Linked DNA regions of Homo sapiens: region 1 is reported to be linked to region 2. The links are microRNA targets in miRTarBase. Many come from high-throughput screens and were not tested one by one. Region 2 holds a microRNA gene; the other region holds the end of a gene's coding sequence.

Region 1 (4,060 bases), not on the chromosome of region 2:
GAACTGCTAACCAGTACTTTCTGTTGTTCATTCGAACAAACATTTTTTGTTTGAACTAGTAGTATGTTCCTAGTATCATCACTGTAAATAAATTTGCAGCTAAATAAGCAAATGGGATTTATAGAAATCTACTTTTTGAAAATATTTTTCATATATTCAGTTTCATATGTTCACTTGCTTACGAATATCTTCTGAGATGTTTTCATATGAAAAATGGAGAAAAAGGTCTCTGGAAAAAAACTAGACAAATGGGTATCGGAAGCATATAGTAATAGCAGTTTTAATAGTACGATTAGGATTTTGCATTTCTGAGCTTGAATTTGTTGTTGAAGGACTGTAGGTACATAGCTAAAAACTTTGACTTTACTTCCAATGTATAATAAATGTAGGCCTGTAATTACCATATCTTTCCACAAGGTGGATGTCTTGATGTTAGGTTCTTCCTCCCCGCTCCCACCACCATTTCAATTGTCAAAAAATTACTTAGGTGATATGATTTCAAAGTCTCTTTATTTTATTTTTATATTTTTTGAGACAGGGTCTTGCTCTGTTGCCCTGGTTGGAGTGCAGTGGTGCAATCACGGCTCACTATGGCCTTAACCTCCCGGGCTCAAGTGATCCTGCCACCTCAGCCTCCCTAGTAGCTGGGACTACAGGCGCATACCACCATGCCCAGCTAATTTTTTGTTTTGTAGAGATGGAGTTTCGCTATGTTGCCCAGGCTGGTGTCGAACTCCTGGACTAAAGCAATCCACTCATCTCGGCCTCCCAAAGTGCTGGGATTACAGGCATGAGCCACCATGCCCAGCCCCCTTTAAATTTTTTTAGAAATACTTTTTACAAAGTCATATAATGTAGTATTTCCTCTATTACATTAGCTTAAAAGTTACTAGATGTTTCTAGAAGATATTTAATTTCCTCTCACTAAATTACTAACATGCTTGTAAAAATGTTTTGAACTCCTTAAAAACAGAACTTATGATTTAAATATTCATGGTTGCTTTAATAATTTTTTCTGAAAATAGGGGCAAATGATTTGTAAATTTATTGCATAAAAAGCTCATTATTGAATACTAGTAATGAAGAATTCTGATAATTCATATATACTGTTATTCAGTAGGACAAATAGTTTTTTCTAAATCTGTTGGCTGTTAAGTATATAAACTTTCTCTTCAAATTATAAATATATGCAAATGCGTGTACATATACATGTATGTCATCAGTGTAATATGACTTGTGAATTGCTTTTTAATTTTATTCCTCTAACTTGATAGTTGTGATGTGCAGGTGGAGAGTAAATATACTTGATTCAATTTTAGTTTATCTCTTAACCCTTATAATACCTGATAAGAACATGAAATATGTAAGTATAGAGTAATAGTTTGTGCATAATAAAAACACAATGGTAGAAGTTAGATACTATTGCCACAAATTTTGATTTAAGTGAATATGTCTGCTGGTTTTAGGATATCTTAGAACCTTTGAGTCTGAACCAGTCCAAACCCTCCTTTGGTTATCCTGCACTTTACCTTTTTAGTTTTATTATCCACTAGTTATGGGACTTGGGGAAAAAACTAAATATATGTCCCATCTAACCAGGTCATTTCTAACTATAGGATCTGCCTGGTTCTTTTGTTAAGCAGTACTGATCTTTTGTACTTTGGGGGCCAAGGTGGTTTCTAAACAGTAGCACCTTTTCCTTTTCTGTTTCATAGTAAATATATTAATATTTCTATGTGAGGGAAATTGAAATCTTAGTTTTACATAATTTGGGCTCCCATTAATATTTTAAATTGAATATTAAATACAGAGAGCTTCTAATATGTTGCTTAAGATAGAAAAGAGGTAAAGTTTTGGCTACAAATAATGGGTTATGAATAACAGAAAATATATAATGTATATATATATATATATATCAAATCCTTTAAATTTAACTGACTTCTAATTAGAAAGGATTTAGATACATTTCACAAACAAATTGAGGCTCAGAGAAGTCAACTGATTCACAGAAGGTTACAGAGCAGCTAAGAGGTAGAGCTGGAATTTTTCTACCATAACAATTTCTTATTAAAAAAAACTATAATTCAATGAATAGTGTGTTTTGCTAGTCTCTAGGACTGATCATAAGTCACTTTGGACAAAGTGCTAACATAAAGACTTGGCAGTTTCTGTGGGCGTCTGACCCAGTAGCAGTCTTAAGTAGAAAAGGAAAAATAGTGGAAAGCAATGAGGTAGCATATGTGGCAAGAAGTCATAGAGGACACTCAGTTGCTCCAGGTGCTACCTGGCAACCATATCAGTAGCTAACATTTATTGGATTCCCAGAACGTCCTCAGCAATGTGCCAGCACTTTAGCTACTTTGTCTTATTTAGATACTACAGCAATGTTGTGTGAGAGAGATATGACCATACTATAGAAAAAACAAGTAACTTGTTGAATAGCACAGAGCTTGGATTTGTGCACAAGTTCTGCAAGCTCTGAAAGTCATGCTCCAAGTTACTGTGCTTCCTGCCTCACCAGTATACCAGGAGGGAAGGAGGAGGGAAGGCTCATCTCTGTAAGGACACTTATTTGAAAGCCAATTAAAAATATTTTTCAGGGAACATGTATTGTTAGTTTCCCCCTTTGTGCCAAGATTTTCACCTTTGTGCTGGGGTAAATTTCCTTTCTTTAACAGTGTTTGCAGAGGTGAGCTTAAAAATACTCTAAAGAGGCATACTTTTCATTTTGATAGAATTTTTCAACAAATTATTGCTTATTTCTTGGTTAAAGGCACTCAATTTGATTTTCTAAGGCACAAACCAAACACATAAAAAGTTGGAATTCTCATTCATGTGTTTGGATTCTGATCGTTCACAAGTAAAAATTGACTTGTTTCACAGATCCCTGTTCTAAAGTACCACTCATCCCAACCACAAGAAAATGTAAAGCCTGGGTTAATTTCCTGCAATAAGTAGTCATTTAATTAAAGAACAAAATTAACAGGAATCAAAATGTTGCAGCTGTATTTTTTGTTAGACATTATATAAAAAAGGAAAAGTATAATACAGTAAATCATCTTGTATAACATGAACTTAAAGAGTTTTCAAATTAATTATGATCAGGATAAAAATGTCTTTTGAACATAATACTGAATGACACTGTCACATGTCCCTCATGTCAGAGGCCTGGGAGTGGTGAGCCTGCACATGCACGTTGCCCGTCCTCCATTACACTGCAGAACTGTAAAACAAGGTTGAAAGGCAAACAACAGTTTTCTTCTGATAGAGTTATGTTGGGTCTTAACTGACCCCAACAGTTCACACTCCTCAGACACCAAAGAAGGAAGGAAGTGTGTCCTCTGGTTACTCCTCTTGCAGGTAAGTGTGGTCAAGATTGCACCTGTGTGTGTGATCCTACTCTTCTCACAAACACAGCAGGTAGGGTAGTCTTGAGCTGAACTTCAGGAAAGTTCCCTGATGAATGTTCAGTGTTGGTATCAAAAAATTAAACACAAATTCTTCTCAGAAGAAAATCTCTATGGCCTGTGGAATCTAGAGATTATAAAAAAGACAAAGAATTTAAGGTTATTCATTTCTAGCAGTTAAAATAGCCAAAAACCTTATACAAATAAATTTGCTGCTATTAAAAAGATTCTCAGAAGTCCCATATGTAAAACATGAGGATGGAGCTACTCTGGTTAAAATAGGGTAGAGTCTCAGAGGGCTCCCCACTCTCAGGCCCCTGTTATATGCTGAATTCTTAGGACTATCTAGAACTTAGTTTTAAACCTGTGAGTTAAAAGCCCTTGAAGTACACAGAAAGGCCAGGGCTTTGCTAAATCAGTAGAAATGATGAATTTGTTAATAAATTATTGAAAATTATAGTAGAGTTATGACTTTTTGTAGAGTAATATGTTCATAGTAATTTTAAAACTCTTAAAATCTCATAACCAAAAATACCGTTCTGACTCTTGAATTGTTGAAATAATTTTAGGGTCTTTATACCACATTTTAAGTATTAGAGTCATTATTTTAGAAAGCTATCAACTTAGGACAATAAACATCTTTACTAAACATT
Region 2 (4,066 bases):
TGCCTAAAAGGACCCCAAATCTCTCTCCTTCACATTCTTTTCTCCTTCCTCCTTATCGTATGGGTTAGGCAAAAACAAATTTCAGCTGAAATTTTCTTCCAGACAGTTGGACTGTGACCTCTGAGTCCTACCAGCTTTGTTGGAGAATCCAGATGTAGATGAGAACGGTGTTGCCTAAGGCCACACTTCAAGCCAGGCCCGTTGATTTCCAACTTATGGCTTCCTACAGCAGTGTGGTCATGAAGCCTGGAAAACAGGAAGATAGGAGTGACAAAAGAGGGACAGGAGTAGAATGAGGCTTAGGTTTTCAAAAGATGCTCATTTCATTTTGGATGACTATGGCAAGGAAGAGTGGTGGCCTGTCTACTGCTACTGTTAGTCATCACTCATGTGACTGTTTTTATGTATTCATTGGTTTAAATTCCCTGGATCTCCAGAAACATGTCACTTTCCACTGGGGGAAATTTGTGTCATGATTAAAAACACACACACACACACACACACACACACACACACCCCTCCTCCTTTCTCAGTGTTAATCACCTTCTCCTATAATTAGCACTTAAAATGTCAAAGGAGAAGAAATTAATTAACAGGAGTATCCAGTGCAGCAAGGCTCTAGGACTGATTATAAAAAGCACTTCCTTAAATATTTTGAGTGCTTTTGGGAATCAGAAGCCTCCCTTCTAATTGAAAGATCCTTAACTACACCCTAAGTCCTGGCTGGTGGCCAGGGGTGCGGGGCTGAGTGAGGCGGCGTGTGGAAATCCCTTCTTCACCATCCTTGGGAAAATTCCCTCCAAACTGGGATAGGTGGCAACAGAGGTTCGGAAACAGCAAGCGTCCCAGGCTGAATCTGCGGAGGAGGAAGAGATGAACCTTTCCTGAGCTGGTACTGCGTGCCAGGAACTTTAGCTCGGTATTTTGCCACAATCCTGTAAGACAACCGATACTATGATCTCCATTTTACAGATGAGGACATTGAGGCTCAGCGTGGTTGTGACTTCCTCAGGTCACGCAGCCACTGAATGAAAGCGCCAAAGATTCAAACTGAGGTCTGATTCTAAAGCTTTGCTCTCTCACGGCATCCTGGAATCCTATTTCAACCTTCATCTGGACTCTTAACCCAGCCCAAACCTAAGCGTCTACAGTTTTGACAGCTGAGGCGGGAGCACGGGAGGCGGAGCTGGTGGCAGCGCAGCGCCCCGCCCCGGCTCCAGCATCAGCCAATGGTGACGCGGCACCCACAGCCTTTCGCCCAATCAGCTTGAGCTTCCCGCCTCCATCCGCCGCTCTTCTCTGCCCCGCCCCTTCGCTTTCCCTTTGGTTCCACCGAGCTTGACAGAGCGGAAAGTCCCTTCGGCCGGCGCCGGGCTGGCAGCCATTGGAGGAAGGTCTGTCACAGGGAGGCCCAATCACGGCCCGCTCAGGAGCGCAGCTCGGCCTACGATTGGCTAGCGCGGCGGCTGCCCCCTCCGCCCCCGCTCCCTCCCTCTTCCCTGTGCGGTTCGGAGGCGGGGCAGGTGGGGGCGGGCCCAGGTAGCAGGTTTGGCTGCGCGGGGGCCGCGCGTCGGAGGTAAATACTAGGGCGGTGGGTGTGGGGAGCCGGGGCCGGCCCGGGACGCGGGCTGGGGAGCCGGGGCGAGGGGCGACGCCCCGCCGCCCGAGGTTAGTGAATGAGCGGGCGGCTGGCGGCCGGCGGGCGGCCGGATCCCCTCGGCGCAGCCGCCTGGCCTCAGGGCGTCCGGAGCCGCCGCGGCGACCATCGGGCCCTCGGCGCCGGCCCGTTAGTTGCCCGGGCCCGAGCCGGCCGGGCCCGCGGGTTGCCGAGCCCGCTGACGTCAGCCCGGGTTTCCCCCCCCCACCGGGGCTTCCCCATCCCCCGAGGCTTCCCGGGAGGGCTGCGAGTCCGGGGAGCGTGCGGGGTCGCCACCATCGGGACCCCCAGAGGAGAGAGGACTTGGGGCGGGAGCCGCGCGGGACGCTGTCCCCCTCCCGCCCCCCACCCCATTTACAGATTGGGAGACTGAGGCACAGGCCGCTGGCGGGCCCCGACGGCCACGGTTGGCCTCAGGAGCCCGGGGCTGTGATTCCTACCGACCGCGCCGCGGGGCGTACGTACCGATCGATTTTGCGGGTGTTGGTGGCTCCCGTCCAGGAATGGCAGTCGGGGTTCTGGCCTTGTTAATGGCGTGTTCTGCTTTTTCTTTCAGTTTCCCCCTTTCTAGGGTGAGGATGGTTCTACACAGCCACCCGGAGTTCCTTAGTTGAAAGGTGCGCCCTGCTGTGACAGGTATTCTTTCTTTATGTTTTTCTTTCATGTTAACAATCGAGGGGGGTGGGGGGCGAATGGGGGGCGGGGGCGAAGTCATGAAATCTTCAGGAGATGGTGTTGAGTTTGGTACTCAGCTGGGTCAGCTGCCGGTTATTCATGTACTTGGCATCGTTTCTCTTCCACCCCTTGGCATTTGAATGTTTTAGGATAGTTGTCATCTTCCAGCCACCAAGCCTGTGGCCTTGCAGTCTCCCAGCCCCCATCATCCCTGCCACCTTCTTCTCCTCAATTTTTCCTGGAAAGTTTTATCCTTAGCTCAGCTAAGGAGCATGCCTACCTTGCTTTTGAATTCGGGCTAATTAGGGATCTTAATAAGATTGTTCATTTTGCAATCATTGGCTCTCAGAGAAGCACCCAGGCCTTGAGAGGGTGTTCGTTTGATTGTTGGCTTTCTACACACCCCCTCACGCCCCAAGTAGACTGAATGGCCTTAAGAATTTAGCCTCCCATTCCCCACTGAGCAGTAGGTGGATTTGAACTAGAACAGTATTAGGAGAAAATGATTTGCTGGAAATTCTTATTGAAGTAACACCCAGAACATTCTCTAATATTCTGCTGCAAAATTGTATAGTATTCTTGCAAATAAACCTTCCTCTGGGTGGTAACTTTTGTGAGAAGCAGATAAGGCTTGTTATATAAAGCACAACTAACATTAAGCAGCAATGATTTTTATAGTCTGGCACACCTAAACTGTGGTTTTGTTTGATTTAAGGAAGTCTCCAACACAGGGAGAGAGAAAGGAATAGTTATGTTGTTTATCAAACTATTAGTATTTTGTTCCTGATTTTCACACTATGATTTAAATTAGTTTTTTTTTCATTGGTTGTACAGAATTTATAAGCATCATACATGCTAGTTGAGGCTGTAGGAAGCTAGTATCAAATAAACCTCAAAACAACTTGGTTTCGTAATTGTGAAATTTTCCGTATTTGTTTCTTCTTATATGTATAACAATGAAGTGGTTTAGCATGATTTCATTTTATCTAGAGAATTACTGAAGTTTTAGGCAAAATTCATTAAATACTCCCAATTCCTGAGTCTTTTTCTCTTCTCTTTCTCTTGGTTTAATCCCTTAAACAGGAGGAGGAAATGCAATTTTGTTTTCACTGTTACCACTTGAGTCTTTCATTCATTTCTCTGTATTCAGTGCCTAGCATATGCCAGGCTCTCGTGTGGGCACTGGATAATATAAAAATGAAGGACTTGGGGAATTCACAGTTTGGCAGTGGAGTGGCTAGGTTTAACACTAGAGAGGCAGCAGTATTCCTTGTTCCAGTGGGAATATGCAGATGTGAGAGGCTCTTCTTTTCTTTTTTTTTTTTAACCTTATAAATCCCACTTGTATTAGGGACTGTGTACTTGTGACACAAATTAGTCATTGAGGAAAATTAAAACGGACTCAGTCTTTTTTCTGGCCACGGAATCTCTGTATCTCTATTCTTTAGCTGTTTAGAAATATAACAACTTTGTCTTTTAGTGAGAGATGTTCTCTTTTAAAAGGATGATCATTCTAGCTATCCAGAAGCTTTTGGAAAAAGGCCCACATGTCTTCTTTCTTTGGTGTTCAAGCTGACCTTCCTACCTCTTTGCCATTTATAATTAGGGGCAGAATTAAGTATTGTAAGTTTTATTCTAATTTAAATAGCTTCCTGTGGTTTTTAGAACAAGCAGGATATCTTTGGAGATGCAAAAAGCTCTTGAATTGGATCTGTCTTTGTGAGATCCTTATGA

The links. The annotated mature microRNA hsa-miR-3181 reads AUCGGGCCCUCGGCGCCGG and lies in region 2 at 1,765-1,783, shown strand. An mRNA with a match to its seed (bases 2 to 7 or 8) in the 3' UTR can be bound and repressed. Matches are read on the target gene's strand: a 7mer-m8 pairs with bases 2 to 8, a 7mer-A1 pairs with bases 2 to 7 and ends in A, and an 8mer does both.
Region 1: the mRNA of PHACTR3 is a reported target of hsa-miR-3181. The part of its 3' UTR that is shown has no 7-base or 8-base seed match.

Annotation. Positions count from the first base shown.
Region 1 is chr20:59,846,589-59,850,648 of GRCh38, reverse strand. PHACTR3 (phosphatase and actin regulator 3) reads right to left here. Exons shown (of 13, transcript NM_080672.5): 13 at 2,938-3,534. The coding sequence ends at 3,519. Among named protein-coding and RNA genes, the nearest start is that of SYCP2, 85 kb to the left of the region's middle.
Region 2 is chr16:50,740,549-50,744,614 of GRCh38, forward strand. MIR3181 (microRNA 3181) reads left to right here and starts at 1,757; the gene lies at 1,757-1,829. CYLD (CYLD lysine 63 deubiquitinase) reads left to right here and starts at 1,538. Exons shown (of 19, transcript NM_001378743.1): 1 at 1,538-1,576; 2 at 2,214-2,293. CYLD-AS1 (CYLD antisense RNA 1) reads right to left here and starts at 2,199. Exons shown (of 7, transcript NR_184279.1): 1 at 2,123-2,199; 2 at 780-856; 3 at 132-246. RefSeq lists a silencer at 1,353-1,952 and an enhancer at 2,193-2,292.